Linked DNA regions of Homo sapiens. The protein of the gene in region 5 interacts with the protein of the main gene of each other region in a pairwise test. Each region holds a gene or a part of one and is shown on either strand. Other genes may lie near its edges.

Evidence for each region.
Region 1: the proteins of SLC10A1 (region 5) and SLC25A46 interact in binary tests that used the Homo sapiens proteins (3 or more experiments, as listed by UniProt).
Region 2: the proteins of SLC10A1 (region 5) and SLC35E4 interact in binary tests that used the Homo sapiens proteins (3 or more experiments, as listed by UniProt).
Region 3: the proteins of SLC10A1 (region 5) and FDFT1 interact in binary tests that used the Homo sapiens proteins (3 or more experiments, as listed by UniProt).
Region 4: the proteins of SLC10A1 (region 5) and GAST interact in binary tests that used the Homo sapiens proteins (3 or more experiments, as listed by UniProt).
Region 6: the proteins of SLC10A1 (region 5) and TVP23B interact in binary tests that used the Homo sapiens proteins (3 or more experiments, as listed by UniProt).
Region 7: the proteins of SLC10A1 (region 5) and TMBIM1 interact in binary tests that used the Homo sapiens proteins (3 or more experiments, as listed by UniProt).

What each region holds. Positions count from the first base shown.
Region 1 is NC_000005.10:110,762,856-110,765,989, forward strand, and holds the end of SLC25A46 (mitochondrial outer membrane protein SLC25A46), read left to right. Parts: 3' UTR 1-2,302; downstream 2,303-3,134. UniProt on the Homo sapiens protein: Transmembrane protein of the mitochondrial outer membrane that controls mitochondrial organization.
Region 2 is NC_000022.11:30,641,954-30,645,936, reverse strand, and holds part of SLC35E4 (solute carrier family 35 member E4), read right to left. Parts: intron 1-3,983. UniProt on the Homo sapiens protein: Putative transporter.
Region 3 is NC_000008.11:11,819,690-11,823,672, forward strand, and holds part of FDFT1 (squalene synthase), read left to right. Parts: intron 1-2,060; coding exon 2,061-2,189; intron 2,190-3,983. UniProt on the Homo sapiens protein: Catalyzes the condensation of 2 farnesyl pyrophosphate (FPP) moieties to form squalene. Proceeds in two distinct steps.
Region 4 is NC_000017.11:41,710,814-41,715,233, forward strand, and holds the start of GAST (gastrin preproprotein), read left to right. Parts: upstream 1-1,517; 5' UTR 1,518-1,574; intron 1,575-4,420. UniProt on the Homo sapiens protein: Gastrin stimulates the stomach mucosa to produce and secrete hydrochloric acid and the pancreas to secrete its digestive enzymes. It also stimulates smooth muscle contraction and increases blood circulation and water secretion in the stomach and intestine.
Region 5 is NC_000014.9:69,794,346-69,798,986, reverse strand, and holds the start of SLC10A1 (hepatic sodium/bile acid cotransporter), read left to right. Parts: upstream 1-1,745; 5' UTR 1,746-1,831; coding exon 1,832-2,187; intron 2,188-4,641. UniProt on the Homo sapiens protein: As a major transporter of conjugated bile salts from plasma into the hepatocyte, it plays a key role in the enterohepatic circulation of bile salts necessary for the solubilization and absorption of dietary fat and fat-soluble vitamins.
Region 6 is NC_000017.11:18,783,861-18,787,843, reverse strand, and holds part of TVP23B (Golgi apparatus membrane protein TVP23 homolog B), read right to left. Parts: intron 1-3,983.
Region 7 is NC_000002.12:218,282,045-218,286,027, reverse strand, and holds part of TMBIM1 (protein lifeguard 3), read left to right. Parts: intron 1-89; exon of another isoform or gene 90-265; intron 266-1,891; exon of another isoform or gene 1,892-1,989; intron 1,990-3,846; 5' UTR 3,847-3,886; coding exon 3,887-3,983. UniProt on the Homo sapiens protein: Negatively regulates aortic matrix metalloproteinase-9 (MMP9) production and may play a protective role in vascular remodeling.

The DNA.
Region 1 (3,134 bases), on a different chromosome or scaffold from region 5:
CTTTAAATTTTGTTTTCCAAAATAGATGTACGTGGAGGGAAAAGCAATTATTCTTATCACCTTTTATTTAAACTTCTTTAGATGAATACTGAAGAAAAATCCAAACCTTAAAGGAAATGTGCCCTTGTATTTTATGGGTGAGGGGAAAAAGTACATTTGTACATTTCAACATATAATAAGCAAAAAAATTACTAATCAGTTTAATAAAAACATTTTGTCTATTCCTAAATGTAATTTGGTGGGTTAAGCACTTTGTGTAGTAAAATGATATGTGTCTGCTCTATCATTAGACATTTTAAAGTTTCATGTCTTCACGTGAATAATCACAGTTGTATCATGAACCATTTAGCGCTCTGAAGCACAGTGACTTTGCACTGATATTGTCCAACCAAGAATGCATACGAATAGAAATTCATTTTACTTGCTAAATGTCACAGAAATGGTTACTTTTTGCAAATAGTAGTGTTGGAACAAAAAAGTGATATCCAAAAAGTGTAAAAACAGTAATAAGTAGCAAATCTCTCGTGTGTGTGTGTGTGTAGTTACTGAAACACCTACATTTTCCATTTTTAAATTCCACCAAAAGGGGGAAAATAAAATTAAACACCACTGATCACATTTTATATTTTATGGTGACTATTTTAGATTAAGGTTTACTTTGTCCAACCAATAGCATTTAAATTGTTTTCAATTAGGATAGTTTCAGATAAGAGTAAACCAGAAAATTTCAAGTTTGAAAAATTTCTAGAAAAGAATCTGAATAGAATCAAGTATTTACTAGTGAAAATCTGTAGGATCCTTTGTTTAGCTAAAAATTAAATATTTCAGGATATTTTTTGGAAGTTAGCATGAAAATAGTTAGTTACATAAATTCATTTTATTGTAGAATAATTATAAGACTGATAGGCTGAACCATACACAAATAAGGTTGATCTTGTTTTCCTTTTTGGAGAAAGAGAATACAAATTAACATTAAAATTGAAATGTAGAAAGTAAAATATGAATAATTTTTTACAACCACTCCAAATTAGTTGAAACAAAATCTTGAACGGTCACGCACTTAAATTTAAGCTAGCCAAATATGTTGCACTGAATTTTGAAAAGAATGAGTGAGATAACTGTAAGATACGCTCGTTCCCTTTTAAAAATTGTTATTTTTCTTTAACATGGGTGCCAAATCAAATATCCATGGGCTATACTTCTTAAGATAATAACAGCTCAAAATAATATTTTTTAATTCAGTAGAACTAATAGCATTATGGAAAAGATTCTATTAAATGTTCCACAGGCCCACTGGTCCTCTTATATAAGCCAAATTTTGGCCATGGAGCTTGTGATACACTTGCCTTACATTGTAGGGTTTCTTAATTTGAGTCAAGTACACTGAAAGCAATTAAAAACTGGTAAATATTAATTTACTATGTAAAGTGAACTTACGAATTAACTTACTAAATACATATATGTAGACCTTCCCGAAATGCCATTCTCAATTTTATTTTATGGGCTCCAAAAAAAATTATCTGGGTTAATAAGGTTATCTATTAAAGCCCCCAGAATCTCAGCACTAGATGTCATAAATATGAAATAGTAAAAACAAGGTCACTTGAAAATGGGTATTTAATACCTTAGCTGGTGTTTTCAGAAGCATACAGAACTGGAAAGGTAAGAACTTGCTTACTATTGCAGATATACCTGACCACTCACAACTGTCTTTTTAGCAGCAGCTTTGTTAAAACTGCACAAAGCATTCACTTTATTGATTGAGTACAAATGCTTTAGTGTTTCTACCTAAGTATTAGTACATCTGTTCAGGAAATGGAAAAAAAAAATGCTGCTTAAATTTGTTTTATCAGCTGAGGTTGTGGAGGATTTTTGTCCACTGATCTTTTGCAACAGAAAAGCATACTTTGTCAGCTTCTAATAAGATAGCCAGGTTTGAATTATTTGCAAAATTTATATAAGCAAATAAGATCTCTTGGTAACAATTGACATTGCACTAGAATTTGAATGATACTGTTGTTGGCATTTCTGTTTCTCTTTCAAGTAGTTGTAAATAATCTCTTTTTCTCATATAAACGGAATGCATAATGTCTTACTCTTGAGTCATTTAGTATCATTGATATGGTACCAAGTTGTATAGCAGAGTAACAAAATCATGATTTGACAATGAAATTTACATATTGCCTCACCTAGAGATGTTTTGTCTGTATGACTTTTTTTTTTTTAAGTTTGTCTTACTGTTACTTTAAATGTTTTGGGTAAATTGTGTAATATGAAAAGTTCAATAAAATGTCGAAATAAAGCCACTGTTTTTCTCCTACTGATGTGAGAGAACTATTCAGGCTGGTGGTTAAAGATGAAGTATATTTTTTTAGGTAGAAAGGAAGATCAACAAAATATGTGAAGTTAAACTTTTTTGCACACTATTTTTTAAAATCTCTATAGCCTCCTCACCACATCCCTATGACATTTTTGGAGTTGTGCTGTTTGATTAAGAATAAAATAGATACAGAGAGGAGGTGATTTGTCCTGCATTTCACAACTAGGAGAGTAACAACAGAAAAATGACAAATAGGCAGCTCCAGACTCCCATCCCTCCATGGAAAGAGAAGAAAACAACCAGAAACTGTCAGAACCAACTTTGTCAGACTCTGGAAAACAGTCAAAAGTTTACAGCAACTATGTGAATGTTAAATCAAGAAAAAGGCAACTTATTGTTAGGAAAGCTTTGTGGCTTTGACTTACCTTGGCTCCTGTCTTCTCTGTGGTTCAGTGGCATGGCAGTCTTAAAAATGGCAGCTTGGGTGCCCAGTGTGGGACCTGACCCTTGGTTCTAGAAGGAATAGAACAGACATAACTTGCTGGAAGGGAGTAAAACGATGTATTTATAATGCTGGAAATAAGTAATTTCTTTAAAAGGTTAAATAATGTTATATCTAGCAAAACTACCCTTCAAGAATGAAGGCGAAATTAAGACATTCCCGGATAAACAAAACCTAATGAAGTTTGTTATTAGTAGAACTTTCTTACGAGAAATAAAGGGAGTACATCAGGCTGCAAAGAAAAGACAATAGATAGTAACTTGAAGTCATATAAAGAAATAACACAGGTAAATGTAATTTTATAGGTAAGTA
Region 2 (3,983 bases), on a different chromosome or scaffold from region 5:
TGAGGCAGGAGGATCTTGAGCTCAGGAGGTGGAGGTTGCAGTGAGCCAAAATTGCACCACTGCACTCCAGCCTGGGCAACAGAGCGAGACCCTGTCTTAAAAAAAAAAAAAAAAAAATCGGTCAGGTACAGTGGCTTATGCCTGTAATCCCAGCACTTTGAGAGGCTGAGGCAGGAGGATCACTTGAGCCCAGAGGAAGGCTACAGTGAGCTATGATGATGCTACTACACTCCACCTCAATGACCAGAGCAAGACCCTGTCTCTAAAAAATAAAAATAAATCTTCAGGGGCTGCCCTGGCCCTGAAGGTCCTAGGTTCTTTTTTTTTTTTTTTTTTTTTTTGGAGACAGAGTCTTGCTCTGTTGCCCAGGCTGGAATGCAGTGGAATGATCTCGGCTTGCTGCAACTTCTGCCTCCCAGGTTCAAGTGATTCTCCTGCCTCAGTCTCCCAAGTAGCTGGGATCACAGGCATGCGCCACCACAACTGGCTAATTTTTGTATTTTTAGTAGAGACGGGGTTTCGCCATGTTGGCCAGGCTGGTCTCGAACTCCTGACCTCAGGTGATCCTCCCACCTCGGCCTCCCAAAGTGCTGGGATTACAGGCGTTGAGCCAGTGCACCCAGCCCAGGGTTCTTCACCCAGCTTCGAAGACTCTGCATCAACTGGCCCCAACCACCTTTCCCGCCTCAGCCCCTATCACTCCCACACTGCAGTTCCAGCCACCATGAAAGGGCAGGCCAGCAGAGGGTCCCAGCTCTGCCACTTACTAGCCACATGGGGGCCTTTGCATTAAAAAAGAAGAGTTTATAAAAGAAAATAATAAATTGGGTCAAAAGTGTGACCCATTCATTGCCTCATTCACTTATGACCACTGGAGTGACAAGGGGACAAAAGGTCATTGTGGGATCTTGGCTCTCACTCACTGTTTATAACTGATAATCAGCATCTTTTTTTTTTCCTGCTAATACTGTGGCTTGTCAAGATGAATCCAGGACTAAGAGGAAACCTTTTCACTTTGTAAGGCAGGAGGGGATCTTGCTGCTTTGCCTATGTGTGACTGTGTATCTGTGTGTACCTACGTGTACACATGCCACCACCAGCCAATTCACAAAGGGGTGCCCAGGCGAAATGACATTATTATTATTATTTGAGACAGGGTCTGGTTCTCTTGCCCAGGCGAAATGACATTATTATTATTATTTGAGACAGGGTCTGGTTCTCTTGCCCAGGCTGGAGTGTAGTGGTACGATGTCAGTTTACTGCCTTCCGAGCTCAAGCGATCCTCCCTTCTCAGCCTCCCAAGTAGCTGGGGCTACAGGCATGCACCATCACCCCTGAAAATTTTTGTATTTTTTGTAGAGATGGGGTTTCGTCATCTGGTTCACCCAGGCTGGTCTCAAACTCCTAGACTCAAGCAATCTGCTCAGCTTGGCCTCCCAAAGTGCTGGGATTACAGGTGTGAGCCATTGCGCCTGGCTGAAATGACATTATTTGCATGAGGGCAATGATGGCATGGGGCCTTTGCCAAGTTAGTGGAGAGAGATGAGTAGTCGACACAGGTCCCCTCCCAGGCCTCTGTGAGCCTCTATGCATTTTCTGACACACACTTTCCAAAAAGCCACAGAGATGCTTACTCATAGGCTATGCTTAGAATAGGAAATTTTATTTCTCTCTCAATTTCATTCCGATGTTTTAGCTTTGTTCTCTAGGCAACAAACAGTCCCTCTGGCTCAAGCGTTTCTAGAAATGAACAGATAATCAGAATGCCTCCTGCTCGCAGGCTCGAAAGTTAACAGTGTTATGAGCTACCTGTGGCTTGCACATTAAACGTCCCATCACAAGAAGGCGGTTGGGTTTTCAGGTGAACTTCACCTTTGGTAAATTTCACCCTCTGCAAGGCAGCCAGGCAGGAAGGTCCTAAACTTCCCACCCATCTCCTCACACCTATTGTACATCCCACCCAATCCTCCACCTCCCCTCCCTGCAGCCCAGGGAAAGGGCAGCCATTCGCTGTCAGAGGCGGTGACTGGCTTCTACCTGGGGACCCCAAAATGTCAGCCTGTTTGTCCTGCCTCATTGCCACCTCTCCTTCTATTGGAACATGCCCAAGTTTCTGCCACATGCAGACAACAGCTGACCCTTCTCTAAACCCTGTCTGCTTGCTATTGGCTTGGCCCTTTTGCTCTTTCACGGGCTGTGTGATACTGTCTCCCTCTCTCCACGCCTCAGTCTCCTTAAGTCGTGTGGCTCGGGTAGCAACAGCCCCCTCACATGTGAGGTGCTGAACACAGGGCCTGATGCCCTGTGTGATGTCCTTGATGCCGGCTCACCCCGGCAGCTGGCATGATCCCCACACCCTGCTCCTGCTGGCTGACACCCTGTGCCCTGGCACGGCCTGTTTCCCATTCCCAGATCACCCTTTCCTCCTCCTTCAGTATGAAGAGCTGGGCATGGTGTGGGCACCTAGGGAGGCCCCAACAAATGTTTGCTCTCATGGTTACATTATTGTCATCATCATTGCATGTCTCTTCCCCTAGATAGCCTTCTCAGCGCTCCCCAGGAAGAAGCAACCGCTCCCCAACACGTGTGACCACTTTGACTCTAGAACTTCTTTTCTGCCATCATGATCTCTATATCTGAGTGCATCTCCCCCATCAGCCTGAGAGCTCAGAGGGGTTGAGTCCGCCTGCTCTGTGATGCGGACGGGCGGGGGAGTCCAGCTGAGAGCAAGCTCAGCAGGCTGGCGCCCCACTTCCCACCCTTTCTGTGGGTAGGAGGATGGCATAACCCCTCTCCTTGTGCAGGCTCCCTGGGCCTACAACTGGCCCAAGAAGGAGGGAAGTCGCTGGCCCTGCCAACAGCTGCCTGGGCTCTCCTCTTTCTGGATACTTTTTTTTTTTTTTTTTTGAGACGGAGTCTCACTCTGTCGCCCAGGCTGGAGTGTAGTAGCGCTATCTGGGCTCACTGCAAGCTCCGCCTCCCGGGTTCACGCCATTCTCCTGCCTCAGCCTCCCGACTAGCTGGGACTACAGGTGCCCACCACCACACCTGGCTATTTTTTTGTATTTTTTAGTAGAGACGGGGTTTCACTGTGTTAGCCAGGATGGTCTCAATCTCCTGACCTCATGATCCACCCACCTTGGCCTCCCAAAGTGCTGGGATTACAGGTGTGAACCACCGTGCCTGGCCTTTTTTTTTTTTTTTTTTGAGATGTTGCCCAGGCTAGAGTGCAATGGTGTGATATCTCGGCTCACTGCAACCTCCGCCTCCCTGGTTCAAGAGATTCTCCTACCTCAGCCTCCCGAGTAGCTGGGATGACAGGCATGCACCAGCATGCCCAGCTAATTTTTTTTGTATTTTTAGTAGAGACGGGGATTCACCATGCTGGCCAGGCTGGTCTCGAACTCCTGACCTCAAGTGAGCTGCCTGCCTTGGCTTCCCAAAGTGCTGGGATTACAGGCGTGAGCCACCATGCCCAGCCTTCTTTCTGGATACTTGCCCTCTGCTCCCACAAACTCTGCTCTCAGGAATGGAGCTGGCATCAGCCACGTACACTCACGTCTGAATCTGGCCCTGGTGCCTCTCCTGGAGCCTCCTGCAGTAGAAACCTTTTGTTCAAAACCTATCTCAGGCTGGGTGTGGTGGCTCATGCCCGTAATCCCAGCACTTTAGGCCGAGGTGGGTAAATCACTTGAGTCTAGGAGTTGGAGACCAGCCTGGGCAACATGATGAAACCCCATTTCTACAAAAAATACAAAAATTAGCTGGGCATGGAGGCACGCCTATAGTCCTAGCTACTCGGGAGGCTGAGGTGGGAGGATTGCCCGAGCCTGGGAAATTGAGGCCGCAGTGAGCCACTGCACTCCAGCCTGGATGACAGAGCAAGACCCTCTCATAAACAAACAAACAAACAAGCAAAAAAAGCCTATCTCAGGCCCTGGCTCAAGTCTGTTCCTCCCCATCTCTGCAGGGCTCCTATCTCT
Region 3 (3,983 bases), on a different chromosome or scaffold from region 5:
TCCATCAGGTCATTTAAGCTCTTCTCTACACTGGTTATTCTAGTTAGCCATTTGTCCAACCTTTTCTCAAGGTTTTAAGTTTCCTTGCGATCGGTCAGAACGTGCTGCTTTAGCTTGGAGAAGTTTGTTATTACCAACCTTCTGAAGCCTACTTCTGTCAACTCGTTAAACTCATTGTCCATCCAGTTTTGTTCCTTTGCTGGTGAGGAGTTACGTTCCTTTGGAGGAGAAGAGGCGTTCTGTTTTTGGAATTTTCAGCCTTTCTGCTGTGGTTTCTCCCCATCTTTGTGGTTTTATCTACCTTTGGTCTTTGATTTTGGTGACGTACAGATGGGTTTTGGTGTGGGTGTCCTTTTTGTTGATATTGATCCTATTCCTTTGTTTGTTAGTTTTCCTTCTAACAGAGGCCCGTCAGCTGCAGGTCTGTTGGAGTTGCTGGAGGTCCACTCTAGACCCTGTTTACCTGGGTATCACCAGTGGAGGCTGCAGAACAGCAAATATCGCGGCCTGATCCTTCCTCTGGAAGCTTCGTCCAAGAAGGACACCCACCTATATGAGGTGTCTGTCGGCCCCTACTGGGAGGTGTCTCCTCCCAGTCAGGCTACATGGGGCTCAGGGACCCACTTGAGGAGGCAGTCTGTCCGTTACTGGAGTTCAAATGCCGAGCTGGGAGAACCACTGCTCTCTTCAGAGCTGTCAGGCAGGGATGTTTAAATCTGCAGAAGCCGTCTGCTGCCTTTTGTTTAGATATGCCCTGCCCCCAGAGATGCAATCTAGAGAGGCAGTAGGCCTTGCTGAGCTGCGGTGGGCTCCACCCAGTTCAAGCTTCCTTGCTGCTTTGTTTACACTGTGAGCATAGAAGTGCGTACTGAAGCCTCAGCAATGGCGGGGAGGCGCTTCCCCTCACCAAGCTCCAGCATCCCAGCTTGATCTCAGACTGCTTGGCTAGCAGCAAGCAAGGTTCCATGGGCATGGGACCCCCCGAGCCAGGCACTGGAGGCAATCACCTGCTCTGCCAGTTGCGAAGACTGGGAAAAGCACAGTATTTGGGCAGAGTATACTGTTCCTCCAGGTACAGTCACTCACGCCTTTCCTTGGCTAGGAAAGGGAAATCCCCTGACCCCTTGCACTTCCTGGATGAGGTGACGTCCTGCCCTGCTTTGGCTCACCCTCCATGGGCTGCACCCACTGTCCAACCAGTGCCAGTGAGATGAACCAGGTACCTCAGTTGGAAATGCAGAAATCACCCATCTTCTGCATCGATCTTGCTGGGAGCTGTAGACCAGAGCTGTTCCTACTGGGACATCTTGGAAGCAACTCTGGGTCTGAGTTTCTGTTTGTTGCCCTGATGTATATCCCCAGTGCCTAGAATGATACTTGTTACATAGGAAGTGCTTGATCCATGTTTGCACAAATGAATCTTTCTCATAATGAGGTTTCTCTAAACAAGCTGTTCTCCCAAAAACTTAAACCCAGCTTTATGTTGAAGCATCTCATTATACATTGGAAAGATGAAATGTGTAGTGAGACTTTGAATCTTCTTTTGAATCTAGAAACATTAGCATTTTTAGACCATTCTATTTTAATATTTATGAAATTTATGAAATAATAAGAAACATGAGGCCGGGCTCAGTGGCTTATGCCTGTAATCCCAGCAGTTTGGGAGGCCAGGGCTAGTGGATCATGAGGTCAGGAATTTGAGACCAGCTTGGCCAACATGGTGAAACCCCACTTCTACTAAAAATATAAAAATTAGCTGGGCGTGGTGGTGCATGCCTGTAATGCCAGCTCCTGGAGAGGCTGAGGCAGGAGAATCATTTGAACCTGGGAGGCGGAGTTTGCAGTGAGCTGAGATCGTGCCATTGCACTCCAGCCTGGGCAACATTGCGAGACTCCATCTCAAAAACAAAAACAAAAACAAAAAAAATGTGTGACCTAAATTAGGCTTATAGATGAACCATTGCAGTCATGATTAATTCCGCCATTGTTTGCCTTGTGATCTTTGGTGCCATGTCTGTACATATTTCATGATTTCTGTGTTTTTACGGTTTCCATTTCAGATCTCCCTTGAGTTTAGAAATCTGGCTGAGAAATACCAAACAGTGATTGCCGACATTTGCCGGAGAATGGGCATTGGGATGGCAGAGTTTTTGGATAAGCATGTGACCTCTGAACAGGAGTGGGACAAGGTTAGTCTCATAAAACAGTGTCTGTGTGTGATGTATTAGACAGAGCTGGCAGTCCTCATAGTGAAGCTCAGAACAAGAAAAGTTGTCCAGTATTTTCAGCCCCTCTGGTTTTACAATTCATCTGTTTAGGTTGAATGTCTCATCATAAACAGTTTATTCCAGAGTTAATTCCAAACCAGCAGCTATGTAGGATATCAGCCAGGCTAGGAGTAGGGTACTGGAGAGAAGTGCTTATCTAGACAAAGGGATGTAATTGACCATGAAGATTAAAACTACACATCAAAACATAAGGTAGGGTTAGGAGTCTTGCCTATTTTTCATAGGAATGGTGTTTGTGAGACTTACTCATCACTTCTGTGGAAGTAAAGACATTTTATTTATTTATTTTAAAGCCAGTCAGATTTAGCAGGCAGAGACATTTCAGACATCTAAAGTGTTGATGTATTTCATACCTTTAACTGTGCTTAAATTAGGATCTCCGAAAAGATGCTGCTACATGGTCACTACGTTAGTGTAGGTCCAAGGTCTTGGGCCTCTTAATTTTTCAAACCTCAAAACTTGACAGCAGTTATCTTTGGAACTGCTGATTTGTGCTTCCTAAGTTAACAGCATACAATGACTGCTAGAAATCAATTTCTGCATTTAAGGTGAAGTTAGCCGGGTACTATGGTTTACCTGTAATCTCAGCACTTTGGGAGGCTGAGGTGGGAGGATCATTTGAGCCCAGGAGTTAGACACAAGCCTAAGCAACATAGCGAGACCCCGTCTTTCAAAAAATTAAAAAATGAGCAGGGAATTGGTGGCATGTGCCTGTGGTCCCAGCTACTCTGGAGGCTGAGGTGTGGGAGGATTGCTTGAGCCCAAGAGTTGAAGGTTGCAGTGAGCCATGATTGTGCCACTGCACTCCAACGTGGGTGACAGAGCAAGACACCATCTGAAAGAAAATAAAGTTGAAGTTAAAACTTCTGGCCAAGAACCAGCACTGGTTATGATAGTAACTCATTTTCTGTTGTGCAGATTTATTCAGGAAACTTAATTTTAGGTTGTTGAATAGAAGTTTTGATCAGATAAAATTGAATTAAAAAAAATTTTTTTTGAGACAGGGTCTTGCTGTTATCCAGGCTGGTGTGTAGTGGTGTGATCACGGCTCCCCGCAGCCTCAACCTCCTGGGCTCAGGTGATCCTCCCACCTCAGCCTACCGAGTAGCTGTAACTACAGTGCATGACACCATACCAGGCTCATTTTTGTACATTTTTTGTAGAGAGAGGGTTTTGCCATGTTGCCCAGGCTAGTCTCAAACTCCTGGCATCAAACAGTCCTCCCACTCTGGCCTCTCAAATGTTGGGATTACAGGCATGACCAGCCAATTATTTCAAGGAGTTATTTTTTTTCTTCTACTTTGGGGGAAGATGAATTATATAAGTCTCCATTTTAGGAGTATTTCTACCAAAAGAACTATTATCTTCAAATATATTTTTGGATAGTACTATAGATATACTAATTTTTTTTTAAATTTCTAGTAATTCTTTTGAAGATTTTGTATAGCTGTCCAAAGCCAATTTCTGTCTACCTAATTTCAGCAAGATTTCACTCTTTTCATGTTACTTTTGTCCCAGAACAAATTTCAAGTGCTTTCTCTTCACCTGTGCATTCTTCCCCCTGATTAGTCTCTGGCTTTGTATTACTTTCAGTCAGAGACGACTTTTTTTTTTTGAGACAGGGTCTCACTCTGTCACCCAGACTGGAATGCAGTGGCACAGACAAGGCAGCCTTGACCTTCTGGGCTCAAGCAA
Region 4 (4,420 bases), on a different chromosome or scaffold from region 5:
ATCTGCTGAGTCACCGTGTCCTGCTCTAGATGAGAGTGGTTATTCACAACGGTTATTCAGCCGTCAGTTGCCATGGACACCGCACAGCCTGCTTCCTTCATCACCCATTAATTCTCAGCAAGGCTGGCTGTAAGCATGGGTACCACTGCAGTTACCCAATACCCAAGGGGATCAAACTCTCCCAGAAAAGGTGGGGGCCCAATGACGCATGAACAGGAGCAAAATCTCTGCTCTCAACAGTGGAAAAGTAAAAAACAGCCTACGGCTCATTACATCTGGTCAAACCATGTGGAGGCAGCAGTTTATCAAATAAGTCAACAAGGTACCATTTTGTTTTCTGGTCCATCTTTGGCAAATGCTTTAGTCTGTTTGCTAACCATTTGAAGGTATATTTTGATACTGAAAAGTTGTTGGCTGGGCATGGTGGCTCACGTCTGTAATCCCAGAACTTTGGCAGACTAAGCTGGGCCGATCATGAGGTCAGGAGTTCGAGACCAGCCCGCCCAACACGATGAAACCCCATCTCTACTAAAAATACAAAAAATTAGCCAGGCGTGGGGGCGTGCGCCTGTAATCCCAGCTACTAGGGAGGTTGAGGCAGAAGAATCGCTTGAACCCAGGAGGCGGAGGTTCCAGTGAGCCGAGATCACACCACTGCACTCCTGCACTCCAGCCTGGTGACAGAACTAGACTTTGTCTCAAAAAAAAAAAAAAGTTGTTATGCAGATTACTAGCTCCCCTTGAAAGCAAAATGAAGGAGGCTTCAAAGGCAGGACCCTCCAGGAATTGGTTCTGCATAGGGGGTTTGCAAGTGGTGGTGCATGGGCAGCTGACCTAGAAGACACGGGGCAGCTACAAGCCAAACCCAGCCCAGCACAGAGGGCCTAAGGAGAAGAAGGCACCAAGGGTGTTCCATGGTAGGGGGAGGGTGAAAGGACTTCAGAGGTGACCAGGATGTGAGCCACTAGAAGGAGAGAACAGGGCCATCAGCCCACAACCCATTGCTCCTGGTAACACGTTATGTTTGCAGAGTCCAGTGGAGGGGACGGGGAATCAATACATCACCCCACATTCACACGCTTGCCAAACATCAGTGGATGGCGAAATCCACTTTCCCTGAATCTAAGCCCATCGGGTTCACTCCCTCACCTACCACCACCCACAAAGGTCCCTATGTAGTTCGAGAGATAAGTGCCAGGCCTCTGACCCCCAGGATATGGTGGGAAGCATTGCTCCTGACCCAGGGAGCTTGGTTCCTGCCCCTCAGGTACAGCTGGAGAGCTGCCGCCACCCCGCTCCAGCCCCTCACCATGAAGGTCAACTCCCCTATCCTTCCCCCACATCCTGGATGACTGACTGACACTAAATGAAAGGGCGGGGCAGGGTGATGGGCTGTACCTGTGCCCCACCCCATTCCTCTCGCCTGGACTCATATGGCAGGGTAGGGGCGGGGTGGGGGGACAGTTGGGAGGGACCTTGAGGGCTTTATAAGGCAGGCCTGGAGCATCAAGCAGAGCAGAGACCTGAGAGGCACCAGGCCCAGCCGTGGCACCACACACCTCCCAGCTCTGCAGGTGAGAAAACCCAGGAGGAGAGGGGAGAGGCTAGGAAGTGGGTTGACAGGTCCTCTCCCCCATCAAGGTACCAGGCCACTGGCCAGAGTCTGGGGCTCACCCCTTGGGGTCTCCAGAGCTGGGACCCTTTCTTTATCCCAGGATGGAACTAGGTCTTGGCTCCAGTACCTACCCTGGTATTCCCAACCTTGCCTTCCACCTGCCCTTCTGCCGCAGCCGGGGCCCTGCCCTTAGCCTATCCCTTCACACTCTTCCCAGCCCTGGGAGGTGAGGAGGACTGGGGTTCTTCTCCTTTCTCTCAGACAAGAAAACTGAGGCCCAGAGGCAAGATGTGACTTGCCCAAAGTCACAGGGATTATTAGGCAAGGCTGGGATAGGAATCCACAGCTCCTGGATCCCACTTCAAGCCCTTTCCTAGACCAGTGCCATCCAAAAGAACGTCCTATGATGCAGGAAATGGTCTTCATCTGCACTGTTCAATATGGTAGCCACTAGCCACGTGTGCGCTTGAAATGGGGTTAGTGTAAGGAAGTTTTTGTTGTTGTTGTTGTTTGTTTTTTTATATAGAGTCTCGCCGTGTCACCCAGGCTGGAGTGCAGTGACATGCAACCTCTGCCTCCCAGGTTCAAGCAATTCTCCTGACTCAGCCTCCCGAGTAGCCGGGATTACAGGCGCCTGCCACAACACCCAGCTAATTTTTCATATTTTTGGTAGAGACAGAGTTTCACCATGTTGGCCAGGCTGGTCACAAACTCCTGACCTCAAGTGATCCAACCCCCTCAGCCTCCCAAAGTGCTGGGATTACAGGCGTGAGCCACTGCACCTGACCATAATTTTTTAATTTAATTAATTTAAATGTAAAGAGCCACATGTGGCTGGTGGCTATAGCACTGAACAACACATGTGGTTAGCATCTGACAATACAGCTCCAGATCACTGATTTTTCAAACATTTCTTCAGCAGCAGAATTCTTTTCTTCCAAAGAAAACCTAACAGAAAACCTGATTATGAAAAACTTAATGGCCAGGCACCGTGGCTCATGCCTGTGATCACAACACTTTGGGAGGCTGAAGCAAGCAGATTGCTTGAGCTCAGGAGTTCCAGACCAGCCTGGGCAACATAGTGAGACCTCATCTCTACTAAAAATAAAAACAAAAAAATTAGCTGGGCATAGTAGTGCACACTTGTAGTCCCAACTACTCAGGAGGCTGAGGTGGGAGGATCTCTTGAGCCCAAGAGGTCGAGGCTGCAGCGAGTCAGGATCACGCCAGCCACTGCATTCCAGCCTGGGAGACAGAGCAAGATTCTGTCTCACAAAAAGAAAAGAAAAAAAGAAAAACTTAAAAGCAGTACAGTATTTTATTAATACAAATGTATTCTGACAAGAGAAAATTTTTATCATTTTCTTATGATAAAGCCAATCAGAATAGTGAGACCAAAAGCATACAAAAATAGTGAGTCCAGGGAATAGATGAGCATTTGAATTTTATGTTTGTTTGAGATTCCAGTTTAGTTCTGTATTATGTTTTCCCCAAACTTGATTCACCCTGATACATAATTGCTAATGGTGACAGCTTAATTTTTTCTTAACTGCTTCATTATAATCACAGGATATTCCTCAGTTAAGCAAAAATGACAGGAGAACCTTTCCTCTCAGGGCTGCACAAAAATCAGTGTGAGCTGGCCAAGCATTGAATGTGCTGCAGTCTCCAAAGTGATAACATGCGGTCTGTAACACAGCTGGATGTCCATGTTCCTTTGGTATTACTATTTAAAAGTTTCACTTTTTGTTTTTGTTTTTTTGAGACAGGGTCTCACTCTGTCGCCCAGGCTGGAGAGCAGTGGTGCAATCTCGGCTCACTGCAACCTCCACCTCCCCGGTTCAAGCGATCCTCCCACCTCGGCCTCCCAAGTAGCTGGGAATACAGGTGCATGCCACCATGCCTGGCTAATTTTTGTATTTTTTGTAGAGATGGGGTTTCAGTATGTTGCCCAGGCTGGTCTCAAACTTGTGGGCTCAAGGGATCCATCCTCCTCAGCCTCCCAAAGTGCTGGGATTACCATGCCTGGCCTAAAAAGTTCACTTTAAATAACAAGTCTTGGGCTGAGCACAGTGGCTCACATCTGTAATCGCAGCACTTTGGGAGGCTGAGGCGGGAGGATTGCTTGAGCCCAAGAGTTCAAGACTAGCTTGGGCAACATGGTGAAACCCTGTTTCTACAAAAAATACAAAAAAAATTAGCTGGACGTGGTGGTGCAAGCCTGTAGTCCCAGCTCTTCTGGAGGCTGAGGTGGGAGGATCACCTGAGCCCAGGAGGTAGAGGCTGCAGTGAGCAGTGATTGCACTACTGCACTGCAGCCTGGGCGACAGAGTGAGACCCTGTCTCAATAAATAAATAAATTACATTACTTAAACAGCTACAGAACCACTAACATGGCCTCAAATTCTGCAGAACAGAACCTAGGGAAACCATTGCCCTAGGATTTGACTTTCTCCAATAGAAGCAGTGGCTGTAATCGGGGTAGGTAAAGAGAAAAAACACAAGACTTCGGGGCTGGTGTGGAACTGGCAGAAACTGGAGAACTGATCTGAAGAAATAGTCCACAACTCCACACAGAATTGCAGACTCACCCGGGTGCGGTGGCTCATGCCTGTAATCCCAGCATTTGGGAGGCCGAGGCGGGTGGATCACCTGAGGTCAGGAGTTCGAGACCAGCCTGGCCAACATGGTGAAACCCCATCTCTACTAAAAATTACAAAAATTAGCCAGGCATGGTGGCACGTGCCTATAGTCACAGATATTCTGGAGGCTGAGGCAGGAGAATCACTTGAACCCGGGAGGCGG
Region 5 (4,641 bases):
GCTTCCATATTGCATTGTGTACCATCTGGCCATCTGTGGTCTTGTACAGACCATCAGGTCCCTGAGAACAGGAACATGAATTATATAGTTTTTTTTATTTATTTATTTTTATTTTTTTTGCCTCCCATGGTGCCTGGTACTCAGTTAGTGATCAATAATTCTCCCCTAGCAACTCTGTTCCCTTCTGATTAGCCCCAGGGAGAGGAAGCAGCCTCCTCTGAGACTCAACCCTACCCTGTGGGAACGCTCAGTCCAGGCATCACATCCAGTGCCCAGTCCTCTGCCTGCCCTCCCTTTGATACCAGCCCAACTCAAGCACCAGGAAATCATTAGCAGAGACTCTCAAAGGAAAAGAGGCTTCAAGTTCATGTCACCCAGGGCCACAGTATACGGCCCCGCAGGCTGCCCACCGCGCAAGCCCAGGGAGCAGCCTTTTCATGGATATGATGCAATATGTATGGATCCTGCCATCCAACCCTTATCCAAGCAGGATTCCAGAGGCCTCAAGGCCATTCTTGGAGAGCTCTCATTTTCAGGTGGTTCCTTGCACCAAGCCAAAATCTGTCCCCACCTCCACCCAACAGTGGTTCACACCCTGGTCCCTATTCTGCCCTCTGGAGTCCTACATACAAAGCCTAATCACCTGTTTCAGACCCCACCCAGGCCTCCTAGGTTCCAACCAAGCCAAGAAGCAATTGTGTTTCTGAAGGAGACCCCTCCTCCCTTGTCCCACCTCTGCAGTGGGGATAGATGGAAAGAGCAAGGCCTAGGATAACCTCACACACTAGGTGGCCCCGCCCCTGGCATGCCCACCTCTCTCTGCTTCTGCTCCACGCCCCAAGCCTGGCTCCCAGCCTGAAACACACAGGCCCAGTGCAAAAGTAAAGCAATCAGGAAGTCAGGAAGAAAAGACTGCATTCCTGCTTCCTTCTCAGCAAGTTTTGCAAGCAATGGGCCTCCTCGGGCACAAAGCAATCTCCACAGCCAGGGTTCTCTCAGGTTGCTTTTCGGGGAAAGAGCCTCCAAGCTTCCTGAGAGCCCACCCACCATCCCAGCTGGTTATTCCCTCTGATGGTAAGCATTCCAGGTAGTGTGGAGCAGCCACCACCAGTATTCCTCCCTGGGACTCATACAGTCCCAGTTTGGGGATAAAACAAACATTTCCCCAGAACAGGCAGGGAGGATACTGGCATCCTCTCAGCTCCCAGGAAAAGGGTCATGGACACATCCCCTCCTGGAGGCCAGTGACATTGCCTGTCCCACACCCCCTTGGACTATGCTACCTGTATCTAGGAACCAAAGGCAACACCCAGCTCCTTTCACTCTCATGGGTTCTGGGGACAAATGATAACCCACTGGACATGGGGAGGGCACCTTCCCCCAACCAAGAAACTAAGGAATCAAGAGCGGAGCTGGGAAAAGGAGCTGCAGGGAAGGAGATGGGCTGGACCTAGATTCAGGTGGGCCCTGGGCAGGTCCCCAGTAACTGAATGAATGCCCATGAGGCACACTCAGTGGAGGGCAAAGGGGAGAAATAAGCCCAGAAGCAGCAAAGTGACAAGGGAGGAGTACAAGTAGCACCCAGGAATCCAGCAGAGGTCAGGGAGCTTGGGAGAGCTAGGGCAGGCAGATAAGGTTCTGGGCTGTTCCTCTTTGGGGCGACAGCCAGAGAAATAGCTCAGATAGTTGCATAACCCTTCTATTTGCCCAGAGCTTTTGTCCAGAAACTCTCTGTCCTGAGAGGTGATTAAAGAAGGCATCCAGCAAGAACTGCACAAGAAACGGAGTCAGCCGGAGAACAAGGAGTGGTCTTCCACTGCCTCACAGGAGGATGGAGGCCCACAACGCGTCTGCCCCATTCAACTTCACCCTGCCACCCAACTTTGGCAAGCGCCCCACAGACCTGGCACTGAGCGTCATCCTGGTGTTCATGTTGTTCTTCATCATGCTCTCGCTGGGCTGCACCATGGAGTTCAGCAAGATCAAGGCTCACTTATGGAAGCCTAAAGGGCTGGCCATCGCCCTGGTGGCACAGTATGGCATCATGCCCCTCACGGCCTTTGTGCTGGGCAAGGTCTTCCGGCTGAAGAACATTGAGGCACTGGCCATCTTGGTCTGTGGCTGCTCACCTGGAGGGAACCTGTCCAATGTCTTCAGTCTGGCCATGAAGGGGGACATGAACCTCAGGTAGGCCTGGGGGTGAGGAGGGAACAGCCTGGGACAGGAGCTACATTAGATATGTCACAATTGAGGGGAAGAGCTGGGCTAAAGCCAGGAAAAGGAGTGAATGCAGGCTGGGTGGAGGCTAGGGCAGGGGAAGTCTGGCATTTATTGCCAAGAGCTTATGCTGGGATGGGGGCAGGAGTTGGGGTACGTCTGGTTTAGGCACCAAGCCAAAGGGACCATACTGGTCCAGGAAGCTCGTGGTGATCTCCTTGCTTCCAGAGGTGTCTCAAGGATTGTCTTAAAGGAGCACTGATTAAAGCCAAAGGAACCTCTGGAGAACTGCATCCACCTACAACAGTGGACAAGTTGCCTGCTTTGAGCCCAGAGATTTAAAAGGTAGTGTGATTCGTTCCAAACATCATCAGGGAGATCAAGGTGACTTGGAACCAAATGAGCACCTCAAATTCCTGCAAAGCGGGCAAGAATTTCCAAAAGGTCCTCCCAATTACCTGGTCATCTAAGATGTTTTCTCTTTAAAGTCCCTCATTCCCCATCAGATGCAATGACATTTCCATGCAAAGGCACAACCAGGGAGATCCTAGAGTTTCCCAGCACCCACTCCAGATAGGCCAGCCCCATCTCAGCCACCCTGATAAGGGGAAGACAGCAGCACCCCCTAACCCCCTGCCCAAAGCATTATAAGCAGAAATCAGCAAGGGCTCGCTCCTGGAGACGCAGCACACAGGGGCTGGTTGATGCTCATCCTTCCAAACTGGGGAGACTCTAGTCTTGAACATCTGCCAGAGGAGCTACTTCAGACCTGCTCCAGCTCCAGCAGCCTGTGCTGAAGCTAAAGAAAACTCACTAGCAGAAGCTCTTGCTTTCAGTGAAACCTCAGTCTCAAGCCAGTCCCCCCTGGTTTAGTCCTCCGTGGAGACGCTATTCAATGCCAGGTATAGCAGCAGAACCCAGAAAGTCCATCTGCTTGTGTCTGTCAGCACCCTACTCCTAGCCAAACTTTCCTAGGAAAACTAACCCAGTCAAGAAGCCCCTCCTAGTGATGCAAAATGACACTGGGACAGATTTTTTAAATGAAAAAAGTGAGAATGGCTGGGCACGGTGGCTCACACCTATAATCCCAGCACTTTGGGAGGCCAAGGCAGGAAGATCACTTGAGACCAGGAGTTTAAGACCAACCTGGGCAACATAGCAAAACCCTGTGTCTACAAATATATACATATATATTTAATTAGCCAGGCATAGTGGCACATGCCTGTAGTCCCAGCTACTTGGGAGGCTGAGATGAGAGGATCTTTGAGCCTACGAGTTCAAGGCTACAGTGAGTCATGATCACACCACTGCACTCCAGCCTGGGCAACAGAGTGAGACCCTGTCTCTCTCTCAAAAAAAAAAAAAAAAAGGAAATAAAAAAGTGAGAGTGAATGAGAGTTGGGGTTTAACAGGATCTGCCATCTGAGAAGCTCTGGGCTCTTTTTCCATATGATTCAGCCCTCACTTTAGTAGTCAATGGGAAGAGAGGCACAAAGAGGGCATTTGGCTTGTGCCATCACCCACGGAAAGGTATTTCAATGTTCAACTACCTCACTGTGAGAAAATGCTTTCCTCTGTCTAATCCACATCCTCTCTGCTACAAAGCAAGCCCTTGGTCTTGGATCTGGCTTCTGGACAAGGCTCATGGCAGCCTGTGTGTCCCAAGAATCCTAGAGTATATCTGAATTTTGGTGTATGAGGGATGCAGAAGTCAGGGGCCTGCGAAGGGGTACTCTGAGGGCTTTGTGTTTCTGTGGAAGAAGCAGAGCAGGGGACGTGGAAGGCAACTGTGCTTTTAAGTGTGAGTGGCCAGATGTCCCAGCCCCATCGCCAGTGGCCACTATTGAGGCCTCTGCCACAATGCCTACATTGCTGTGGCTCTAGGCCCCACCCAGGCAGAGCCTCTGGTGACTCAAGAACATGACCCCTCATGCTCTCCTGCTCAACCTCCTTGTCCAGACCCCTGATGACTGTCATTTTTACCTAGACCCCCACAAGAGATAAGCTCTGCTGGGACAGCCACCTTCTGCCATAAAACTCCTTCCCAACAAACAACCCTCCCATGCACATTAAACCATGTCTCAGATCCCACTGTCGGAATGGGAATCTGGTCATCTACCTTCATGTGCTGCCAGACTTCAAATCCCATTCCAATTTGGGACAACTTGTTACATGCATTATAATAATGACAACGATTATAAGAAACAGCCAGGCACAGTGCTAAACACCTTACCTGGATAAGTATATGTGATCCTCCTACAGCACCCTGGGGGACAGCATGTAACAAGTAGCATTTAGAGGTAAGGAAACTGAATCTTAGAGAGGTCAATACATTGGCTCCAGGTCTGGGTGGCTCCGGAACCTGTGCTTTTACTGAAATATCTTCCAGGTCAGCATTTCCACAAACAAAATGGCCAGACAGCC
Region 6 (3,983 bases), on a different chromosome or scaffold from region 5:
GCATCCCTACAAGTATAGGATAAAATTTAACTCCTTCACATAAAGCATAGAAGATCACAGAATCTAATGCCCCCTACTTGCTTCTGACACTGTCTTCATTGAGCACTGTTGAGCACTGAAGCAATACTGTTACTACATGGTCTCTAAGAACACTACAATCTCTCTCCCATCTCCTGCCTTTCACATGTTGTCTCAGAAAACTCTTCCCTTCCTCATGCCCTGCTCACCACCAAATACCAAATCATCCTTCAAGTTTTTTAGCTCAAATACTGAAATAGCTGAAAACCTGTCTCTGAAATCCCCATGTTCCCACAGCACTTGGACGAATCTCCATTTGAACAATCATCTCAGAGTATTCTTATTGCACATCTACCCGCTCCTACCTCCATATAGATTAAGCTGCTGGAGGACCTAGAAGACAAGGTTTTTTTTTTTTTTTTTGAGACAGAGTCTTGCTCTGTCGCCCAGGCTGGAGTACAGTGGTATGGTCTCAGCTTACTGCAACCTCCACCTCCTGGGTTCAAGCTAGATTCTAGTGCCTCAGCCTCCTGAGTAACTGGGATTACAGGAGTGTGTCTCGGCTAATTAGCCTGGCTAATTTTTGTATTTTTAGTAGAGACAGAGTCTCACCACGTTGGCCAGGCTGGTTTCAAACTCCTGACCTCAAGGGATCCGCCCACCTCACCCTCCCATAGTGCTGGGATTATAGGTGTGAGCCACCACGCCCAACCAAGACTGTCTTTGCATTGTAGTAAATCCTAGTGTCTAGCAGAGCATTCAGCCAAGTGGTACAGTATTTGTTGAAGGCATGAGTAAATAAGCAAAGGAGACGATAATATACAGCTGACTGTGATCAGGGCTGAGAAATCTAAGTGCAAATGGGAGCCAGGGAAGGAAGCAAATCATTCCTACTACAGGGCACTGGAGAAGCTTTCTGGAGGAGAGTTTGTCAGCTGGGCCCTGACAGTCCGCGTAGGCCTCCCTAGACTAGGTATATTTTGAAAGGCACAGGTGGGAATACAGGAAGTTTGTCTAAGAAATGGTCAAGTAGCTCATGCAGTAAGTGATGGATGCGAGAAGCTCCTACTGAGCTAAGGCTGAAAAGGTAAAATGGATTCAGATCTATGAGACTAGTGGTTCTCAACCCTGGCTACAATTAGAATGCTTTTTCTTAAAAAACAAACAAACAAACAAAAAAAGGCTGATACTTGGGTCCAGCCCTCAGTGGTTCAGATATAATTGCTTTGAGGTGTGATCATAACGTACAGCAAGATTGAGATCCACCGTATGATGTTATGAATAAAAAGCTGAGGCCTTCTGCTCTCGATCCCAACAGTCTAATCGCCATCCAGCGGCCAGGGAGACTTTTTCACATCAAATCCTATCATTCCCCTACTGAAACCTCTCAGCACTATGACTGAAAAACAGACTCCCTATCATGACCTATCATGATCTGGTCCCTGCCAATCTCTAAGACCTTATCTCAGGCCACTCACTCTTCATTAACTGTGGTAGGCTGAATACCTCCTCACCCCTCCCAAAAATGTTTAGGTTCTAATCTCTGGAACCTGTGAATATGTAAATTTACTTGGCAAAAAGAATTTCACAGATGAGATTAAGTTAAGGATCTTGAGGTCAAGAGATCATCCTGGATTACCCAGGCTGGTCAGATGACGTGATCACAATGGTCCTTACAAGGGAAACAAAGGAGGGTCAGTGAGAGAAGGTGATGAAACAAGCAAAGTAGAGATGAGAGACAGAGATTTGAAGAGGCTGTGCTCATGGCATTAAGATGGGGAAGGGATCCCAGGTGTTTAGAAGCTGCATCAGGCAAGGAAACTGATTCTCCAGAACCCCTACCCACACCTTGATGTTTAACCCCTTGAGCCTCATTCTGGACTTCTGACCACCAGAACTTTACAACAGTACATATGACTTCACTGCCGCAGTAGCAACAGGAAATTTATACAGTACCTAAGCTCCTGCCCAGACTGGCCATTTTTTTTTTTTGACACAGGGTCTGGCTCTCGCCCAGGCTGGAGTGCAGTGGAGCAATCAGGGGTCACTACTGCAGGTCCTACATCTCAGCCTCCTGAGTACTGCAAGCCACCATATCTAATATTTTAATTTCTTGCAGAAATAGGGTCTCGCTATGTTGCCCAGGCTAGTCTCAAACTCCCGGGCTCAAGCAATTCTCCTGCCTTAGCCTCCCAAAGTGCTACGATTAGAGGCATGAGCCACCATGCCCAGGCTGGCCTTCTTTTCAGTTCCTTAAACATGCCAAACTTGGGCCCCGTCAGGTTCTTTTGCACTTATGGTTCATATTACCTAGAACACTATTCTCTTACCCTGCTCTTTGAAAGACTCATTTCTTCTCATTTATTCAGTAAATACTGAGTGCCTACCAAGTGCCAGGTACTGCTGTAAGTGGTACAGATTTAAAAAAAAAAAAAAAAAAGACAAATAGCTCTGCACTCCTGGAGTTACATTTACTAAGATGGGGAAGACCACGGACACAAAAGATTTCGGGGCAAAATCAGCAGTTTGATTTTGGACATTTTAAGATGCTAAATGACATTTTAAGATGCTAAAACCAAAAAGCGTTGAAAGGGAGATCCATTGGAGTGTTTTAAGTGTAAGACTGCATGTTCTGACTCACCTGTTAGAAAGAGAATTCTGGCTACTGTAGTAAAAATCTGGAGGGGGAGGGGAGAAGAAGGAGGGACAAAAGCACAACGCTAGGAGACTGGTTAGGAAACTACTTTAATCACGAGGCCAAGAAGTAATGGCTTGGTCTAAGATGGATGCAGTGGAGGTGATGAAAAATAGATTCCAAGTACATTTTAAGGGAGAGCTGACAGGATTTGCTGATGGACTGACTGGGGAGGTGGAGGAAGGGTAAATAAAAGGAATCAAGGAAGATTCCAAAGTTTTTGTCCTGAACAACTAAAAAGATAAAGATGGCTAAGACAGACTCCTAGCATTCCAATAATTAGAGATCACAAAGATAAGAAGGAATAGGCTGTGGGGACTGAAAAAGAAGTACCAAGGAACATAAGGTGAGCCAGGAGGGGGTAGTGTCCTGGAAACCAAACAAAGTGCCTCCAGGAGGAGGATCCATCATCTGTGTCAAATGCTGCTCATAAGTAAGATGAAAACCAAAGAGAGACCACTGTATTTTTTTTCTTTTTTTTGAGACGGAGTCTCGCTCTGTCGCCAGGCTGGAGTGCAATGGCGTGATCTTGGCTCACTGCAACCTCCACCTCCCGGGTTCAAGCGACTCCCCTGCGTCAGCCTCAGCCTCCCGAGTAGCTGAGACCACAGGCACATGCCACCACCCCCAGGTAATTTTTGTATTTTTAGTAGAGACGGGGTTTCACCATGTTGGCCAGGATGGTCTCCATCTCTTGACCTCATGATCCACCCATCCTGGCCTCCCAAAGTGCTGGGATTACAGCCATGAGCCCTGCACCCAGCCATGACCACTGTATTTTTAACAGGTCATCAGGGAACTCAGTAAGAGCAGTTCCAGTATGGTTGGGAGAGGGGAAGAGAGACTGACTAGAATGAATACAAGAGAGACTGGAAGAATTAAAAGACAAGCATATATGATACAAGTCTTTAAAGGAAAAAGAATGGAGTGACCAGTGAAAGAGCATGTGGTGTCAAGTTTGTTTTGTTTGTTTGTTTGTTTGTTTTGAGACGGAGTCTGGCTCTGTCGCCCAGGCTGGAGTGCAGTGGCGCGATCTCGGCTCACTGCAAGCTCCGCCTCCCAGGTTTATGCCATTCTCCTGCCTCAGCTTCCCGAGTAGCTGGGACTACAGGTGCCCGCCACCACCCCCGGCTAATTTGTTGTTTTTTAGTACAGACGGGGTTTCACCGTGTTAGCCAGGATGGTCTCGATCTCCTGACCTCGTGATCCACCCGCTTCGGCCTCCCAAAGTGCTGGGATTACAGGCGTGAGCCACCGCGCCCGGCCAAGT
Region 7 (3,983 bases), on a different chromosome or scaffold from region 5:
TCCCTTACCCTCCATTCTTCTCTAGCCTCCACCCTTAGACATAGCTACGAAAGTAAACACTGACCCTTTCCCCCTTTGCTGCTACCTAGGCAGATGCCAGCCCCAAACCTCATCCCTAGTGGAGGCCTTGCTGATGTGGAAGTGGCCAGGGCCCTCATGGAGGCTGGGCAGAAGCCCAAGAGCAGGCTCTAAAGCTGCCAAACCCGGCAGCCCTGGTCCCCGGAGGCTCTTGCCAGTCTGACAGTGTTCTTGGCACTGCTCAGAGGTGAGTGTGGCTGAGTTTAGCAACTCCCCTGGCTAGCGTTAATGCTGGGGTTTCCTCTCCTGTGCCCAGGTCTCTCTATGTAGACAGCTAGGATCTCGTCCTGTCCCCAGGACCAGCTCGGTAACCAAGGACAGGTTCCTGTGCTGTGGCTGTCTAGTTGGTAAAGTGAGGGGTTGGCTGTCCTTGGGTGAGTTTCTTTCCAGCTCTGACCTTTATGTATCTCCAAGCCTGGGCCACCCTCTTCTCCTGGGGCCGTTGGCCAGGCTGTGAGCCCTGTGGTGGTGTGGAGGGCCTGAGTAGTTTGGCTTCCACTTGTGTCAGCCTCCTGTTGAGGCTAAAACCCATGAGAGGGTTTTAGATGGAAGCTATGGCAGAAGTGATGAGAAGGTTGGATAGACAGGGTGTTTTCAGGTTAGGGATTAAGAGCAGGGGCTTGGGAGTCAGTCTTGGGGCTCATTTTGACTTCATCACACTCTAGCTAGGTTATCTTGGCCAAGTGATTTAATTCTTCTGTGCCTCAATCTCTTCATTTGTAAATGGGAATAATAATAACAGTATTAACTTGCTGGACTGTTGTAAGGATTTAATGAAAATAACCAACCTTTATCCCCATTGATCAGGGGTCGGGTTTCATTCTAAGCACTTTATGTGTATTTTCTTTTTTATTTTCTTCGAGACAAAGTCTCACTCTGTCACCCAGGCTGGAGTGCAGTGGCACGATTGTGGCTCACTGGAATCTCCGCCTCCCAGGTTGAATCGATTCTCCTGCCTCAGCCTCCCGAGTAACTGGGATTCTAGGCGCCTGCTGCCATGCCCAGCTAATTTTTATATTTTTAGTAGAGACGGGGTTTCACCATTTGGCCAGGCTGGTCTCGAACTCCTGATCTCAGGTGATCCACCTGCCTCGGCCTCTCAAAGTGTTGAGATTACAGGCGTGAGCCACTGTGCCCAGCCTTCTATGTGTATTTTCTCACTTAATTTTTATAGCAACCCCGTGGAGGGTACTATTACTAGTGTGAGACCCATTTTCCAGGTGAAGAAACTGAGGCATAGTGAGTTGAAATGGTCATGGTAGTTTCTGGTGTGGATGGGCTGGTGGCTGAGGTACCCGAAGGACTGGCCTGGAAACTGCTGTGTGCAGTGCAGGCAGGCCTACTAGCACATGCTTCTGAAACCAAAAGCCTGAAAGGGAGGGGCAAGAGAGGCAGGAGTGAAGCTCTGAGTCAGCACCCGCTGAGCTGCACCAGAACCTTGGAGTCCCCGTGGCCCATCCGAGGCTGACCCTTCTCTCTGAGGCACCTTTCACCCGGTGGCTGCCACAGTCCCTTGGTCTGGAAAGTTAGCTGTTTGCCCTGCTTGGCTCAGAGGAGGGAGCAGGGGCAGCTCTCTGGCCGAGCAAAGGTCAGGCCCTGCAGAGCCGAGTTCCCAGAATCATAGTCTGTTGTTAGAGGGGGCAGTGGGCTTAGAGGTCGTGTCGCCCCCACCTTATTTCACAGAGGTGCACCCTGAGGAGGTGCTGGGACACGTCATGGTGACATCACGGTTGGGGTTTCTGCCCACAGAGCCTTTCCGGCCAGTGCTTTTTTTTTTTTTTCTTTTGAGATGGAGTCTCACTCTGTTGCCCAGGCTGGAGTACGGTGGCGCGATCTCAGCTCACCACAACCTCTGCCTCCCAGGTTCAAGTGATTCTCCTGCCTCGGCCTCCTGAGTAACTGGGACTACAGGTACATGCCACCATGCCTGGCTAATTTTTGCATTTTTAGTAGAGCAGGTTTTCACTATGTTGGCCAGGCTGGTCTCGAACTCCTGACCTCATGATCTGCCCACTTCAGTCTTCTAAAGTGCTGGGATTACAGGCGTGAGTTACCGCACCCTGCCAGCTTTGTATTTCTGACCTGACATTCTTGCCCTGGTTCTATCCCAGCCCCTCTAGGGAGATGAAGAACAGCTTTCCTCAAAATAACCCACTTAGAGACCTGGACTTTTATTCAATTCCCCCTCCTCAACCCTCCCTGCCACCTTCCCCTCTCTGAATTATCCCAGTTGTCATAAAAGAGAAGAGATAAGACAGTCCTTTATTTGATCCCCGAACTATGCAATGTGCCCTAAAAAGAGACGCTGGTCTCTCTTGCTTCCAGCAGAGCCTCTGAGAGCCTCTGGTGTCTGCTGACCTGCATCTGGGGGTGTCCTCCTTGGGGATCCTAAAGCCCCCTGTAGATGCTCTAGAAGAGGTGGTGGCCCTGTCGAGCCCAGACTGCCAGGGCTTGTCCTTACTGGGGATGCAGGGGCCCTCTAGGGGCTTCCTTAGCTCCTCCTAAGCCTGCATCTCTGCTACCTCAGAGGGGACCACCAGGCCCAGAGGACAGTAACTGGCAGAGGAGGCATAAGAGCACCGCATAACATGAAGGACCTGGACCCAGGATCTGGAAGGCCTCCGTCCTGGTTATGCCACTGACCTGCGAGTTCTGGGGTTCTGGGGAATCACTTCCCTGTTCAGGGCCTGCATTCTCTCATCTGAAGTGAGCATTTGGGGCTTATGGCCCTGAGGTCCCTTCCAACTCCAGTTTGGGGTTCCCTCCCCCTGGTTTCTTGGCCCTCCCCTGGCTATGGGGCTCTTCCTGCTGCAGGGAAGGCATTCCCTTGACCTTGTGGCCTGACTCCTCAGCTCTTTGTCCTCCCTGCTAGCACTGCACCTGGAAGACAGGTAGAACTCACAGAGAGCCTGGGATTCAGAACATCTGTCTCCCCCTCCAGGGTGGGGGTAAGGGGGAGGGCGAGGGGCCGTGCACTCACTCTCTCTTCCCTAGCAAGGCCAGAGAGCAGCTGTGGTCGCAGGCTGCCGCATGCCTTTCTGACACGCCACCGCTGTTATTTGAAGGAACCAGAAAGTCCTGTCTCAAGCTGGCCCTTTGGCACAGCCTCCCTGCCCCCAGCCCCTGTACCACCCACTCCTGCTTCTCAGGCTTCCTGACTCAGCCTGCCACTGGCCCCCGGGTCCCTGGATCCCTTCCTCCTCGGGGCCTGGCAGCTCTGGCACTGGGGCTAGCTTGTTTTCCTCCACTTCTTCCCCCGGCTCTCCACTTTGAGCCTTGGCTCCAACCCAGCTCTGGCTTCCAGGCCTGGCATCCCCGTCAGCTGTGGCAGGGGCAGAGCTGACCCTTTCAGAGGGTCCCAGCTGGCCCTGTGAGTCGCCAGGAGGCTGTGCCTGGCCCATCTGGCTTCTTCGCTGGTTCTGCCATCAAGCCACCAAAACTGGAAGGTTTTCTTAAACCACAACAGGGAGTTCCCAGGCTCCCTGGTTCCCTCTCTCCTCAGCGAATCCTTCCTCCTGCTTTCCTATGGCTGGGGAGCTGCACAGTGAGAGGCCTGTGGACAAGAAGCAGGCGCAAAGGCAGGAGGGACAGGAGCCCAGTTGGTGGGGAGGTGGCCTGTGGACAGCAAATCACACGCTGCCCTCTAAGGAGAAAATAGGTGGTGTTCCTCTCCACGGAGGCAGCCTGGACAAGGCTGGAAGTGGGCCCATGAGGCTGAGTGAGCTGGGCCTGGGCATTCACGATTGCTTTTCTCCTCTCCCATTTCAGGTCCCAGCAGCTGGGGTTCCCCCTCAGCCCGTGAGCAGCCATGTCCAACCCCAGCGCCCCACCACCATATGAAGACCGCAACCCCCTGTACCCAGGCCCTCCGCCCCCTGGGGGCTATGGGCAGCCATCTGTCCTGC